Linked DNA regions of Homo sapiens: region 2 is linked to region 1. Evidence: fine-mapped expression QTL. Tissue or cell type: subcutaneous fat. Region 1 holds a variant in brackets; the other region holds the start of a gene. All regions are shown on one strand. Distances are between the middles of the regions.

The links. PIP is the estimated chance that this variant, and not a neighbour inherited with it, causes the effect.
Region 2: P3H2 starts here. The variant in region 1 is fine-mapped to the expression of P3H2 in subcutaneous fat (GTEx, PIP above 0.99). The same link has a PIP of 0.9 or more in pancreas.

The regions. Positions count from the first base shown.
Region 1 is chr3:189,999,830-190,008,097 of GRCh38, forward strand. The region is part of intron 1 of P3H2 (prolyl 3-hydroxylase 2); the gene reads right to left. Among named protein-coding and RNA genes, the nearest start is that of P3H2, 120 kb to the right of the region's middle. The variant T/G (reference allele first, on the strand shown) is at 3,973.
Region 2 is chr3:190,116,133-190,124,132 of GRCh38, forward strand. P3H2 (prolyl 3-hydroxylase 2) reads right to left here and starts at 4,765. Exons shown (of 15, transcript NM_018192.4): 1 at 4,120-4,765. The coding sequence starts at 4,599. It overlaps P3H2-AS1 (P3H2 antisense RNA 1), which reads left to right and starts at 4,832. Exons shown (of 4, transcript NR_126419.1): 1 at 4,832-4,957. RefSeq lists silencers at 4,242-4,321, 4,532-4,761, 4,708-5,002 and an enhancer at 4,972-5,151.

The sequences.
Region 1 (8,268 bases):
GAAGCTTAGGGCCATTTCCTCTCAAGCTGTGAAGAACTAAGGCAAACATTTTCTCTTGCCAGCCCAGAAGCATGACTACGTGGTAGTCATACTGTATGGACAAAGAAATGAACATTGACTAAATCAACAGCCTGCTGACGTTCAGAAGTTACACTGTCCTTGAACCTGTGAGTGAATGAGGTTCCTCTGACACAGAAAGAGTTTTCCATAGCTAGTAATAAAGGACGGATTGCTAAAGCACACATTGACTATTCAAAAATCTCCAGTAGTCATCCATTGACTAGAAAACAGATTTCAGACACTCCACATCATGACATTCAAGAACTCTGGGATTTGGCTCTGTTTTTCCTGGCATCACTTCTTCCTCTCTGCCATTATACCAACTCTTTCCAGAGAAACTGAACTTCTCTAAGTTTTAAAACTTACCACCCGCCTATTCAAGAACACACACATAGGTCCAATTCTCCAGTCATGCCCCAGTTCATTAGTTCACCCATTTACTTATTCAGCAAATATTTATTTTGCACCAACTCTGTATCAGACACTAAACAGAATACCTACGTGGTCAAGACAGACAAAGGCCCTCCTTTCTATAACAAATGTTGACATTCTCATAGAAGGGGACAAATCCCAAGTAAATAAATAAGTAAGGAAAGTAATTTCAGATTGTATTAAGTGCTATGAAGAAATAATGAACAAAGTTGTGAGCACTGACTGGGACTGGGCTGGAAGGAGAACTCCTTTAGATTCATTCATCAAAGATTTCTCTTCAATGTAATTTTTGAGCTGAGACCTAAAAGTTGAGAAGCCAGGCATGAACCGAACAAGAGGAAGGGCATTCCAGGCCAAAGAAAGTCAAGTGAAAGGTGCCTGAAGTGGAAAAAGGCTTGATGTGTTTTCAAAGCAGAGCAGAGATCAAGGAGGGAGATTTTAGAAGTTAGAGAAGGACGGATCATTTGTATAGGCTATGGTAGAGTTTAAATGTCATTCTAAGTGCACAAGGAAACAGTAAAAAATGTTAAGGAGGGATATAATCAGATCTGATACACATTTTAAAATGATAATTCAAACTTCTTTGTGGAAAACAGATCTTCCTAGAGGGCAGAAGAGCACTGCAGTAATCAGTCAGAGATGATGCTTTTACTTTGCAAAATAATGCAGCACAGCGTAAGTCAGTTGCCTGTTTTACTTTCCTTCCATTTCCTGCCTCGATTCCTTTCTCTTCGTCTATTTTGCCCATCCTTGCTCTAACAATGTTTCTCAATTCAGAAGGCAAACACGTAACACAAAAGGAAACGCTTCTAAAATTTCCAAAGATTTTGTGTGGAAAATATGTAAGTTCCCTATTTTCTGAATTAGGATATGTAGCTCAAATATTTTGAATACGAAATTAAGAACAACTTGTAAGGCACGTGCAACAAAGAAAAGGGGCTAATAATTCTAAAGCACATTAAAACATGGAAATACCACTATGTACTTCTCAAATAGAATATTTGGCAGCACTTTTTACTCTTTTGAAGGTTTTTTGTACAGAGTAAAACATCAAGCGTAAAATAAGTAATTTCCATTATTCTCAAACATCAACATTTTCAATAAATGAATGAATTCTTTTTCTACTTTCGTCACCCTAACTTTGGGAATTTATCCATTACATTTTAATGAAGTGCTATGGTTTTTGCCTTCGTTTTTTTACTTAAATTTCACAATATAGTAACTTTAGAGATTTTTAACTCCCAAGTGACAAGCATGTAAGCTGACACTGAAGACATCCTGTTTCTAAGCCACAGCGCAAGTTCTAAGCTCTAGCTAGCAGCATAAGCACAACAGCTAGAGAGAAAGGAAGTCATCAAATTACAGCATGTATATCACACTAAACAACCAAATTCATCCTTTGATGAACCTGTAAGATGTGTGTGTGTATACACTCATATACATACACATGTCACAAGGCACATTTGTAGACATTTCATTACTTGCTAAAAAGTCTCCAAATTTACTCGAATTTTTGCCAACTTGAGTTAATTTTTCTTCATAGAACCAAATAAATAAATACATTTCTTACAATATGAATAATATATTAAAAGAATATTCTTAAAATTTACAAAACATCAAATTTTGAAATAAAATTTGGAAGCAGTTTGTTCAACCTACTGAATTAAACGAAATCCTGTAAATTACAGTATTTAAATGTAAAGTATGGGCTTATGAATGAGAATTTAATCTTATTTTAGGACATTCCTAAACATTTCTATATAGCAGAGTCAGATTTTTGGAGTAAAATAATAGCCATATAGCAAATAACTTTGCATTTTATTTCACAGTTACTGATGATGTTAATACATTAATATAACTTGTAAAAAGATCCATATTTGAAATTTTCACAATTCAGTTATAAGAAAAAACAGTTTATATCTCCTGACAAATTTATAAAATTAATTTTAACATCCATAGAGAACTACCTAATATATTCTGTTGCACCTTTTGCCTTGACTACTGGGAAGCTCAGAATTGCATTCACTGTCATTTACAGTAACTATATTATATTATGTTGGGTTTCTTTCTTTCTTTTTTCTTTTCTTTTTTTTTTTTTGAGTTGGAATCTCGCTCTGTTGCCAGGCTGGAGTGCAATGGCATGGTCTCAGCTCACTGCAATCTCTGCCTCCTGGGTTCGAGCAATTCTCCTGCCTCAGCCTCCCAAGCAGCTGGGATTACAGGCACGCGCCAACACACCCGGCTAATTTTTGTATTTTTAGTAGAGATGGAGTTTCACCGTGTTGGCCAAGCCAGTCTTGAACTCCTGATCTCGTGATCCGCCCACCTTGGCCTACCAAAGTGCTGGGATTACAGGCGTGAGCCACCGTGCCCGGCATTATGTTGGGTTTCTAATGTGTCAAACTAAAGCTGGCATATTTCACTTTTTTCTTTGAGTGTTTTTGTTTCCATTTCAAAAATCTAACTATACAAATAGTTGCCTTAGCAAGGAAACTCAGGGACATACAAAAGGTACAACCTATTTAAAATATATACTCCCATAGTAAGGGAGATTTTTATACAATATATTCCTTTTCTACATCTCAAGGCAGAACATTTTAAAATTTCTAGCTTTGAAGAACACATGTTAATTCACAAGTTAGGTGGCCATGCTAATGTAGAAAATGAACTTATCTTTGCATTTATGGAATGTCACTCTAAAATACAGTCATAGGTATAAGTAACTATTTATCGTTTTCAAAATGCAATTTGGTAAGGATTAAATGGAAATGACGTTTCTGAAGAGTAATATTTCCTCTGTGGAGTAAGTTGGAAAGGAAGAATGAACATGCTTTCTTAAAGTGCTTTCTTTTGCCAAACTGCTTATGCTCTTTCCCTCAATTACTTATGGTCCTGATTCTGATTAATAGACTCCTGCTTTTTTAAACACTCTAGTGAAGTTTTAGTCTTGATGTTTACATTTTAGTGTTAAACACTAATGGTGAATAGCCATGGCCAAATGAGGATACTCTTAGGAGCTCCGTGAAACAACAGATTCCATCAGCTTTCTAGAAGATTTCTTATCTAAATAGAAACCATCTTTCTGGGTAAGGAAAACATTAAAGTGAAGACACAGAACTTTTAAACATACTATTTCCGATTAGAGACTATTAAAAATGAAATGCCCTTGATGTTAAAAAAAAAAAAAAAACTATCTAAGTATTAGCCAGAAATAAGTGTGTGCTTTGAATTAGACAAAATCGCTCAAGTCATCTGTGTATTGTCTAACTTCCTACCAAGGGAACAGCCAAAATTTGAATGGCTGCTGGGTAAGAAGGAGAGCACATTATCTTAGTGATGGAAGGTAGACAAGTCGTCTCTGCCTCGGGTCGAATGAAGTTAGTGTGCATGGTCTATTGGTATGTTACTGTTGTTTTTGGTTCTAAATGCTAGGACAGGGTAAGACTGAATAACTGGGCAGGGATCTTAACCTCTGCAGTG[T/G]TTGTCCAGCACTCTCCCTTGAGGTGTCAGATGATGACTAATGGTTACCGAAAAGCAGTGTGGGCCAAGACCTTGCTGACATTTGTTTCCTGCTACTGTTTTTGGAATCTGCTTTAATCCTTTTCAAAGTTTATTCTGAAGGTAGTTGTCATTAATTTCATACCTTAGCTTTGCCAGCATCCCATGACTATGGTAGTAGTCATTACTTTAACATCTCAAGAATCTAGTTCATGTCAGATTTTGAAAAATAAATAAATAGAAATCCAATGTTTCTCTATGTGAGTACAGAACTCTACTCCTCTTATACATGACCTCTGTATTGGTGAGCACAATCTAACTTGTGAGGTTGCCAATAATAAAAATTGCATTTGTCATATAGGTTGTATGTTTTATATAGTTGGCAAAGCATTTTATAATATTAGTAATAAAAATAAGAGAAATAAAAATGGCCATTTATTGAGTTTGTCTGCCCAAGAGGACAGCTTCAAAAAGCTAGATGAGCCCTTACCTCTACTTCAGGACCAGCGCAGAAAGTGGCTGGTAATTATTGACAAGGGTACGTTATGATACAAACGATAATTTATTTGTTTATTTATTTCGAGACGGAGTCTCGCTCTGTCGCCCAGGCTGGAGTGCAGTGGCGGGATCTCGGCTCACTGCAAGCTCCGCCTCCCGGGTTCACGCCATTCTCCTGCCTCAGCCTCCCGAGTAGCTGGGACTACAGGCGCCCGCCTCCACGCCCGGCTAATTTTTTGTATTTTTAGTAGAGACGGGGTTTCACCGTCTTAGCCGGGATGGTCTCGATCTCCTGACCTTGTGATCCGCCCGCCTCGGCCTCCCAAAGTGCTGGGATTACAGGTGTGAGCCACCGCGCCTGGCCACGAACAATAATTTATAGCACCAAGTCAAAACTTGTCCAGGGACAGAGTTCCCCTTAATGAACTTTAGGATACAAAAACAAATTTTGTTGTGATAACACTTGACTCATATTTTGCCTGGTTTTCATTATAATAAAGGGGGAAAAACGTTGTCTTTCCCGAGTGACTCAATTAAAAAAAAAATTTTAGCTGGCCATCAATTTACTACAGCTAAAAGTCAGCTTCCTAATTGTTCACTACCACAGTTATGTCTCTACAACCAATAGCAGCCAGATCACATTTTTTCCTCAAACTGTATGTCACAATCATTTGAATTTGTCACAAATCACTTGTCACAAATCATTTGTCAAAAATCATATGTCACAAATCATTTGAATTTGTCAATTATGATAGCAAAATGGCAATTAACTATGGATTTCTGTTTCTAAGATAGCTTTTTGAAAATCAGCAGTGAAATAGCTTAATGCAAGCCTGGGAATGATTTTTCTGATCTTGAGAATATGAAAAAAAATTTCAAAAGTTTGTTGCTGTGTCTGCAACATTGTTTTGTGAAATGACAAAGCCTCAGACATCAAATGCTTGTCACAAGCACTGGGAATCAAAGTATGGGTTTATTTAGTGTTTCTCCTGTAAGTCCACATGTTTCCTGAGTAGACTGCATGGGGGCATATAGATCAGGGAGAAGAAGTAATCATTTGGGCCCTGGCCTGTTTTAAATTGTAACAATGCTAGGATAACACTGAAAATAGCTTGGCAAATTTGATTATTTGAGGAGGCTTTTAGGGTTTAGTGAATGTACAAATAAATTCTGTCATTATAATTTCCAACATGCTTGGTCTCCCTTCCATTTTGTGTTTATGAAACAAACTTAACATTCCACTCAAATCGCTTTACTGTGAGCAATGCAAGAAAAGCAAACAAGTAAATCAAAAGCCTTTCCACTTGTACCTTTTTGGTATAAATACGCCACGTTCTTCTGTGAAATATAAACTCTTGCTTTTATAGGAGTGGGAAGATTTACTTCAAAAGTTATTTCCAAACACTCATTTCAGCTCATGCAAAGGAATGCATCGTGGCTGCAAGCCAAGGGGAATTTTATTCCAAAGACCCCTCCTGGAGGAATCTTTAAGAGGAGACTAAGGTCTCTGCAGGTATGTCACCCATCAAGCTCACTAATGGGTACTCCTAACCTGACAGGCCACATGCTCTTACTAAAGAGATGGTTTTCATGATAGAGTTCTTTCATTTCAATGTTTCATACATTCCTCTGGCATCACACCTGCACTTTTATAAGTATCCAGCCACAGCAATAACCTTCAGGCTGTACAGTATATGAAATATCCCTACCATATATCCAGGTTAAATATAAACTCAAACATTTTCTTTGTACCTCAGCCAAGAGACTATATTAGAAAGAAAGTTCTAGTCCATGTAAATTCTAGAGAAAGCTAAAGTTTGGGAGAGATCTACTTACTGACTAAACATATCGAGTAGCATCAGTCCTGTTATTTTTGTGGCACTTGCATTGATCTTATAAATACTAATTGCAATTAAGTCTATAGAAGACTAGGGCTGGATAGACTATTTATATCATATAGTCCCACTGTTTCATTTTACAGGTGGATAAAGAACCTGCCTAGAATATTAGCAGCAGAAGTATAATTAGAAGCTACCTCTTCGATTAAAACAAACATTCACAAATAGACACTTGGGATTTTAGTCACCACTATTTCAAAGTAGAGGTGAGTTTGTGCATGTCTTGTTTATGTAACAGGTTTGCTGGTCACTTCAGTCATAGAACTGTGATAGATGACAAGTGTCTGAGGATACAAAATAAATGTGACAGGATCCTAATCTTTTAGTAAATATAGCCCAGTTAGGACAAGAAGACATACACAGACTATTGATATCAAGAACTGGGAATTTACAAGCTTTTAGGGCAGAGTGGGTGGGTGGCAGGCAATATAATGCTGTAAAAATTAGGAGAAATGTGAAATCACAGTAACCTGGAAGGTTCAGGAAAGGACTCACTGAGAAAGTAGGACTGAGGGTCTTGAAAAACAGAAAACATGTGGATGTCCCAGCTGCAGAATAGTAATGTTACAGCAGAAATGTCTCAGATCTATTTATAAGATAGTGTTTTGGATAACGTGGCTCATGTGGAAGGTTTCGATTCCAGAGTAATGGGAAACAAGGTGGAACAGGACTGGATTATGGGGATCTTTGATACTAAGGTGAGTTGTTTTGCTTTTTATTCCCGGAAAAGGGGAAACAGATAGATATATCTATGCATTATCTATATGTGCATGTTTGTGAATGTAGTCATAAAAATATATCTCTCTTATTCCAAAAAGGGCTGTGAAAAGTAAAAACTAAAATACGTGAGGTAAAATTTCACTTATTGGCAGGGAGAACTTCCTCATTGGCAGGGAGGAGAGTGTAAGACTGGAGGCCTATGATAAACTTTATAATATCCTTTTAGTTGTGGAAACATTAGCCTGGTTGTTGTAGGACTAAGTGGGAGTAAAGGGATACTGGAGAAGAGGCAAAATTTTGGGGAAACCCTTGTACTTCTCTTTCTCATATAACAGAGAAGTAAGTTGGTCAAAGGGAAATGCAAAGCTAAAGGCATGCTTAAAATTTCAAAACTAGTTAACTTGGAATATGGTGGTAATAGCAATGGAAATAGTATTTTTTAGGTGGCTACAAATTTTGGTTGTGGGTTGGAGAAATTTTTCATTTCACTTTGAGCTAGTTTGTGTTTGATATAATGAAAAGGCATCCAAATAAGTACATCTTCCTAGAAGTCAAGCATCTTGACAAGAGATCTGATCAACCAAATATCGAGCAAAGTCTTCACTTGAGACATACTTGAGGTCTTTTCCCAGACAGAAAGCCAGAGAGAAGAGTTTCCTAAATGAAGGAGCAATCTATTATTATAAATAAGTTAGAGCAACCAAGAAGGACAGAAAAAAAAATGTTTATTTTGATGTTTGTCAGCCCTTACCTTGCTAAGAAATGTATTGCCCTAGATGTTCATAAGACTTATAAAAATGCTTTTATAATTAACAAAGGGTATGATGAACTGTAGTAAGAGTTAAACACATTTCTTTAGGATACAGCGTTCAGATTTTTTTTTTTTTATGTACTACTGTAACAGTTAATCTGTGTAAATGGGACACTGTATTTCACATTTTTCAAACTCTTTCGGCCAAAAACCTTCTAGTCTGCTTCAGACTGGCTCAAAAAACTAATCAGCTGCCTGAGACTCTATTTGTTGACACACATATATATATATATATATATAGTAAACTTCAGTAACGTTGATGAATGACTTTAATTATAAAATAATGACCTAAGTGATCCCAGAATCCCGAATGCAGATATTGAAATAGCTCTTCATCTGCTGTGACATCTG
Region 2 (8,000 bases), 120 kb after region 1:
AATGGAGAAATGGTATACTTTTGGGAGTTGTAGATGGAGTGAAGGAAGAACTCACAGAAATAGGTGCATTTATATGTTAGGATAGTTATGATTTGAACATGTAGAAGAGGAAGAGGAAAGGTCTACTATTTTAACTAATAAAAAGAATAAATGTATCTCCAATGGTTACTGAGAATCAGGCCCTATGCTGGGTGCTTTACATCACTCATCTCTTAAACTTAACTTAAAATAGGAACGTAGGCCCCATTATTTCCCCATTTTGCAGATGGGAGAACTAAAGCTGAAAAATCTTATGGAATTTGCTGACAGTCACACAGATAGAGACTGGGAAAACTAAAAATTAATCCCATATCTATCCATTCTAAAGCCTCTACACCTCCCAAGAAAGACTAAACAAGGCCAAGAGATGCAGAAGTGTCAGGCATAAGACAAAGCACTCATTGTTACCTTTGGCTGGAAGGCGGCAGAGTTGGGGAAGATAGGACTGGGAAGGTTGAGAGGGAGCCAGGCTGTGGATGCTATGGTAACCTATTTGAGCTTTATATGGTAGCAAGAGGAAGTCCACTGAAGGTTTCTGAGCAGAGAATGCAATGATAAAAGCTATATATTACGTCTTAGGCTATGAATCATGGGTTATCTCTAACAATCTTAAATGATAAAAATCAAAAGTTTGAAGAGTCTCACACTGCCTTTAAACAAAAAGTATGGCTAGGAGCCACGTGAAACTACTGCCTCATAGCTGTCTAGGCAAATTCCCAACATGCCAGGCCTTGAAAAAATTCAACAGAGCAAGGCTCATGAAAGATGTAGTGAGTATCTGTTACCCTGCAAGACAAGGATATACTCATCCCTGGAGCTGTCCAAATCTGGCATAAGGATAGCCCTGGGGTATGCAGCATTCTCTGGGACCTGATGTGAACCTACAGGCCAGTGGGCACAGGAAAGCTATCGGAATCAGTTATTGGAAGAATCCAGACTCCTGACTCCCAGCCCTGTGCTCATTTCAACAGATCATTTGGTATGCCACTAAATATGTGACACTGAGCAAACCTCTTTACCTTTCTATTAAACATTTAGAAACATCCCTTTCCTCATCTGTGAACCAAGAAATTGAACTCATTGGGTCTCAGATTTCATGATTTTTCATCCTTCTTCCCCTCCAACACACCAGCACAAATAATCTGCTTTCATCGGAGGCCCACTCAGCAGGATTTGGGGGAGCAGTAACATCTCCTGAGAGCTTCTATAGTTGGAAAATCTCTTAGCTGAGAATAATTGTACTTTCTTAGCTTTATGAAGCATTCCAGTCCTCCCTCACTGAATTTGATCTAGTCCAGGATTATCCTTTTAAGTGCAAACTGGATCACTGATGTCAAAAGCAATTAAACAATACAGGGCACCATGACCATATCCAGTCACATGGCAGGGAGTTCCTCATCCTAACATCAGGGAATCAATGCCCTAGAATCCAGACCTGTCAGAGCTCCAGGATGTTCTTTTATTATTTGAGAGGTTTTTTTTTTTTTTTTCAGTCTCAAAAGATGGTGTGTGTGCGTATTCATAAGTGAAATTCCAAGGAAGCCAAGCAAAGGCTAAAACTGGGGCTTTCTTGGGGGCTGGGGGAGGGGGGTGAAGGGGAGAGAAAAACCATGATGCAGTTTTAGAGGTTCACAAACTCCAACTTTCAAAAACGAATTTCCAAAAGGATAAAATATTTTCTTCTTAAGAGATTATCAATTATGTAGATCCAAGAAACTGCCAGAGAAGAGAAGTAGGGAGAAGACGCAAGACTTGTTCTGCTCTCAGAAATATTGCTGGTAGAACTGAAATGAACACACGAAGCCACGGATCTTTGAAAGAACTTCTTAAACTTCATTAATTCATCAGACAACACCCAGTAATTCACTTACAGAGTGTGACTTGTTCCTGTAATCAATTCACCACAAAAATTTGAGGTATGTTAAACCTATGGCTTCACCTTCTTTGACCTCCAACCAGGGAACCGGAGGGGAAATGACTGACAAATGCTGACATTAACAGTGAAGCAAGCAGAATTCCAGAACCAGGGAAACCCACATATTGAGAGTTACCTCATGGTTATTTGTTTTTATAGGACTGACCTTGACTATGTATTCTTTCTCCAGATATGAGAAAGGAAAATATGTCCAAAATTTGTGACAGAATTAACAGCAGGACTGCTAACCTTACATCCGAGACTCCTGGGAGGACCAAGCTACAGGGACCACCCATGTTCTGCTCTGGGAACTAGCTTATGATAACTTCACCGTCAGACACTCAAGGTCCCCTCTCTGCCTGGTGTTGACTGATTTCTGTAAGACCACCAGAAATTGTGTAAATCACTTAGAAGAAATTAGAGTTATACTTCATACATGCCTTAGCAATCAGGAGGCACAAGCAAGCAGAAGACAAGTCCTGGAAAGGATTCAGACTTTCTCCTCATTTCTTGCCCAAGATACTAGTCCAGTGAACTCCAACACCTTAGCCACAACACAAGGAAGTTAAGATTTATACTTAGTTGAAATTTCGTGCACTCCACCAACAGTTGCCAATCTGAGAGAACCCTACCACAGATGAGGGCAGAGATCTTGTGGGATGAGCTGCAAAAGGCATTTGGATATTTGAACATGGTATGTACTTTCATCTCCTTAGAAACACAGCCTGGTCCAGCCGTGCTCACGCCTATAATCCCAGCACTTTTGGAGGCGGAGACGGACGGGTCACCTGAGGTCAGGAGTTCGAGACCAGCCTGGCCAACATGGTGAAACCCCTTCGCTACTAAAAATACACAAACACACACAAAAATTAGCCCGGCATGGTGGTGCACACCTGTAATCCCAGCTACTCAGGAGGCTGAGGCAGGAGAATCGTTTGAGCCCGGGAGGCGGAGGTTGCAGTGAGCCCAGATTGCACCACTGCACTCCAGCCTGGGTGACAAGAGCAAAACTCCGTCAAAAAAAGAAAAGAAAAGGAAGAGAGGAGAGGAGAGGGGAGGGGAGGGGAGGGGAGGGGAGGGGAGGGGAGAGGAGAGGAGAGGAGAGGAGGGGAGAGGAGAGGAGAAAAGAAAGCAAAGCAGAGCACAGCAGAGCAGAGCAGAGCAGAGCAGCCTGGTCCATTGGCTAGCATGAACAACCAACCCCAAAGCTTCCACTTTTCCGGTAGCTGTAGAAGATACATTGATATATTAACACAGAAAACGAGAAAGAAGGGTTAAGAGTGTCAATTTGAAGGAAAATTGGGTGAGTGGCAGTGGAGGTTGAAGAACTCATTCAAATTCCCTCTGCTGAAGCATCCAGAGAGATCTTCAAAGTTATGGATGTGAACAATATGTCAATATGCATACTATACCTCCTGACGCTAACTTTAGGCAAGTTAGGCATACAAAAATAAAACTAGAAAGAGAGGACTGATGCCTAGTAACCCAGTCCAATGCATACCACCAGAAAACGTAAGCCCTCTATCAAAGGAGAAAAAGTCAACACTTAGGGTGGATACTTTGACTGAGACTGCCTCAAACAGCTTCGCCTCCTCCAAGCATACCTTCTCTTTAACCTTTGATCTTTACTTTTTTGTAGGTGAAGGGGAGAAGAGAGAGAAATTTGTTTTGGAACAGGTCTTTCAACTTCACTATTTTGAAGATTCTTTTAAACTTCAGAGAAAAGGTGCAGACTACAGTATAGGAAGGATAAGAGAGAGGAGACAAAAGAAATGGGAAGTGAGAAGGGAGAAGAGAAATGGGAAGTGAGAAGGGAGAAGAGAAATGGGAAGTGAGAAGGGAGAAGATAAATTGTACTAGATTCAGCTTTGTCAATGCCTCATGAATTAGTGCTGAATGGGTACTTTAAACATCACCTTATCAGGACAGTCCTCTTTTTGAGAGAGAAGCTGGCTCTGAGAAAGAGAGAAAAAGACTTGTCCAAGTTAATCAATTGTTGCATACAGAGATAGGGCCACCAGATATCTGGATTCACAAACTGAGACACATATTTAAGGAGACCCAATTCGAAAGACTGAACAGAGATGACGGGGGCAGCAGGGAGGGCTCAAGAGAGCGTGTGAGAGCCGCAGGGGCTTTGCAGTGGAGGAGCGCTCTGTGGGTACCTTGATGTAGGCCCGCTGCAGGTAGTTGTAGGGCACTCTGCGCTGGAAGTCGCTGCGCACATCCTCGCTGACGCGGTGGCGGGATGCGGGGCCCCCGAGGCGCTGGGTCTCACAGCTGCGATAACAGCGCGCCCGCCCCAACAAGGAGCGGAAAAGGGGCAGCTCAGCGCCGGGGCCCTCGCCGGGGGGCGGGGGCGGGAGCGGGTGGCGCGCCGCGCAGTGGCGGGCACAGCGCGTGCGGATTTCCCGCAGGCGCCGGTGGCTGCGCAGCGCCGCTTCCAAGTCGCGCACCGCTCGCTCGTAGTCTCCGCTGTAGTAGGCGGCCGCGCCGCTGGCGTAGAGCAGGTCGAAGGGCTGCAGAGGCCCGGGCTCCAGCTCCAGCTCCCGGCGTGGGCTGTCCGGGGGGCCGCCCCACAGTGGCGGCGGCAGTAGCAGCGGCAGCAGCAGCAGCAGCGGCGGCGCCCAGATGCGCTCCCGCATCCTCCGCCTCAGAGAGGCGCGGGACGGTTACGCTCGAGAGGGCTTCGGGGCACCTCGCGTCCGGGTCCCCTCTCCCACCTTCCCTCGGGGAAGCGCGCCGACTCCGCCGCGATCTGGCCGCTCCGCGAGCCCCAGGTGACCGCCGGCGCTCCGCGTACTGAGAGGCGGAGGCCGTGCCTGGCCAGCCGCTCTTAAAGGGACGCCCACAGCTCACACGCTCCTCCTGCTGCCTGAGACTCCGAGAGCCGCTCTCCCAGGCTCCCCGCTGCAGCGGCGGGGCTGCCAGGGGCGGCACACTCCAGCGCCAGCCAGAGAGCTAGCGCCGCTTGAGGCCGGCCGGGGACGAGGCGCTTTACACGTGAGCTCCCTTCTGGTTGTACAAGTGGATAGTATTAGTCTTCTTTTTGGGAAATAAAGAAAATCCAGCTTAGCAAGGTTAGGGCCTTAATCATATTCTGGAATCTCTGTATGGCCTCGCAGTTTGCAGAGTGCTTCACCTTCTAAATGAAGCCTGGAGCGCCATTTCAGACTGAATCAAACCGTAGATGCCATGTGTACCTACGCAACAAATCTGCGCATTCTGCACGTGTATCCCGGAACGTAAAGTTAAAAAAAAAAAGAATAAATAAATAAATAAATAGAAAAAAAACCCATAGAGGCCCTGTAGGCCCAGATGCGGAGGTTTAAGAAGATAAGTGATTTGCCTAAATGCATAGAGCTGAGAAGTGGCAAAGGACGGACCCAACCCAGGGCCTTTAGAACCAAAGCTTACCGCTTCTTCTCTTGGGGAAGGTTTCTCCCTTACCTTTTCGTCCAACTTGGTGTGGATGTGTGTCCGGGCATTGGATCAGGGCGCTGGGCCAGGGGAAGAACAATATATAGCCTGCCTTTCCTGTGCAGCCCGTGGTTTTACAGGGCCCAGAGAACCTTTGGAGGCAGGAGGAGCTGTACTCGCATTCTGGCTCCGTCCGTTTACCAGCTGTGTGACCTTGGCAACTGAGGGCCTCAGTTTCCTCATCTCCTAAACAGCCAGACGCCTAACACGTAAAATGCTATTCAGAAAAAAATTCTTGCTGTGGGCCAGGTGCAGTGGCTCACCCCTGTAATCCCAGCACTTTGGGAGGCCAAGGCGGGTGGATCACCTGAGGTCAGGAGTTCGAGACCAGCCTGGCCACCATGGCAAAACCCCGTCTCTACTAAAAATACAAAAATTAGCTGGGCGTGGTGGCACGTGCCTGCAGACCCAGCTACTCAGGAGGCTGAGGCAGGATAATTGCTTGAACCTGGGAGGTGAAGGTTGCAGTGAGCTGAGATCATGCAGCCTGGGTGACAGAGTGAGACTCCGTCTCAAAAACAAAAAAAACAAAGAAAAAGAAAAGAGAGGAGAGGAGGGGAGGGGAGGGGACGGGAGAGGAGAGGGAAATTCTTATTCTAAGAGTTGAACAAAGAGGCAATTTAGTATATCCCTTACCTCAAGGAATTAAGCAATCTGCATCAATCTAGGAATGAGAAAGCTGACAGAAATGGTTGCCAGATTCCAAACGACTAGCTGGAGGCTTCCTGTTCCTCCCCTTCTCCTCTGTCACGAATACATTCTTAGCCAAGGTGTTCCCCTCTTTCGTGTTCCTTGGCTTCACACTCTCACAAGAATATTGGTTGGACCCTGGATCCCAGCCTGCCTCCTGGAGGCATTTCTGTGGTCTTCTAGTGCCTGTGAGAATCTCATCAGTCTTTCAGCCCCTGCAATGGTGAGCAGAGGGACAGGCAATGGGAAAAAGACTCACGCATGTATCTAGTTGCTATGATTTTTCCGAAGAAGGCTTTTATGTGGAATCACCACTACGCTGAGGGGCTTGCCAGAGATTCATGCTGATTCCTTCATTCATTTTGTTAGGTTTGACCACTCAGGCCATGAACAGCCCTGGCTGTGTAATTCCAAGAGACACTGATGAATCATGCTCTTTTTTTTTCCCACCAAACGTTACTAATTCGGCTCATATCACTGATGAAAAAGCTCCAGTTTGGAGCTGAATGTATATTGAATGCCTTGGATGGTCAGTGTTCCAGAATTAGCACATCAGTCATCTGCCCAGACTTTTTCTCTAGAGATTGTCTGTTTTCAGATAAAGATTTTGGAGTCTAGTCCAGGGTTATCAGTCCACTTGTGGAAGGTTTTGAAGCACATCAGGATAGGAACTCCTGCTGTGGGACTGAGGGCAAAGTGCCAGGATACCTTGCTACATTCTATTTGTACATTTGGTGACATTTCTACATCATTTAATATATTTCAATTAAATTAACAATTTTTGATGCCTACTCTTAAAGTAAATATTCTAGGTGAAAGAGAAGATAAGTCAGGATTCTTACCTTTGGGAAGCTCACAGTACTGTATAGGAAACAAATTTGATATATATAATGTATACAGCTATAATACAAGGTAGAATGTGGTACGTGTTAGATTAGATTGAAAGTGTTGGCCGGGCGCAGTGGCTCACACTTGTGATCCCAGCACTTTGGGAGGCCGAGGCAGGTGGATCACCTGAGCTCAGGAGTTGGAGACCAGCTTGGCCAACATGGTGAAATTCCGTCTCTACTGAAAATACAAAAATCAACTGGGCGTGGTGGCAGGCACATTTAATCCCAGCTACTCAGGAGGCTGAGGCAGGAGAATCACTTGAACCCGGGATGCAGAGGTTGCAGTCAGCCAAGATCGCGCCATTGTACTCCAGCCTGAGCCACAGAGTGAGACTCAGTCTCAAAAAACAAAAAGAAAAAAAAAAAAGAAGAAGAAAGAAAAAAGAGCTCTGGGAACACAGAGGTTACAAAGATAGCTTCTGGCTAGAAGGATCTAAAAAGACTTAGGGAAATAATTGGCATTAGCACACAGTCAATAGCCTATAGAATGCAACCACATCCTACTGATTGCCAAATTGGCCAGGTTCTTTCAAGCCTCTTGTATGTCCTACTACCTTATTTCTTATATCTTACTACAAGTAGTAAGTAAGTAATATGCCTTGTATTACTACCTTACGTACAATCTCTGCCTGACTTGAGAGAAACTATTCATTGACAACTCAAATTTGCTTGAACATTAGAATCACCTAAGAAGTGTCTGGCTTCTGCTCTGAAAGATTCTGATTTATTGGTCTGGGATATGACCTGAGCGATGGGATTTTTAGAAGTTTCCCAGGTGATTATAATACGAAGCCAAGGTTGAGAACCACAGGTCTACAGCTAATGCCACAGCCCAAAGAATAAGTCTATGAGTTGGGGTTCCAGGTGCTGTGTAGAATTCATGAGTAGGTAGGGTTTGGAGAATAGGTAGGGTTTTGTGTAATCCCCCAGATATTCCCTCCCAGGAAAGCCAATCTGATCTGCTTTTTAAGGCTGGATCAGGACAA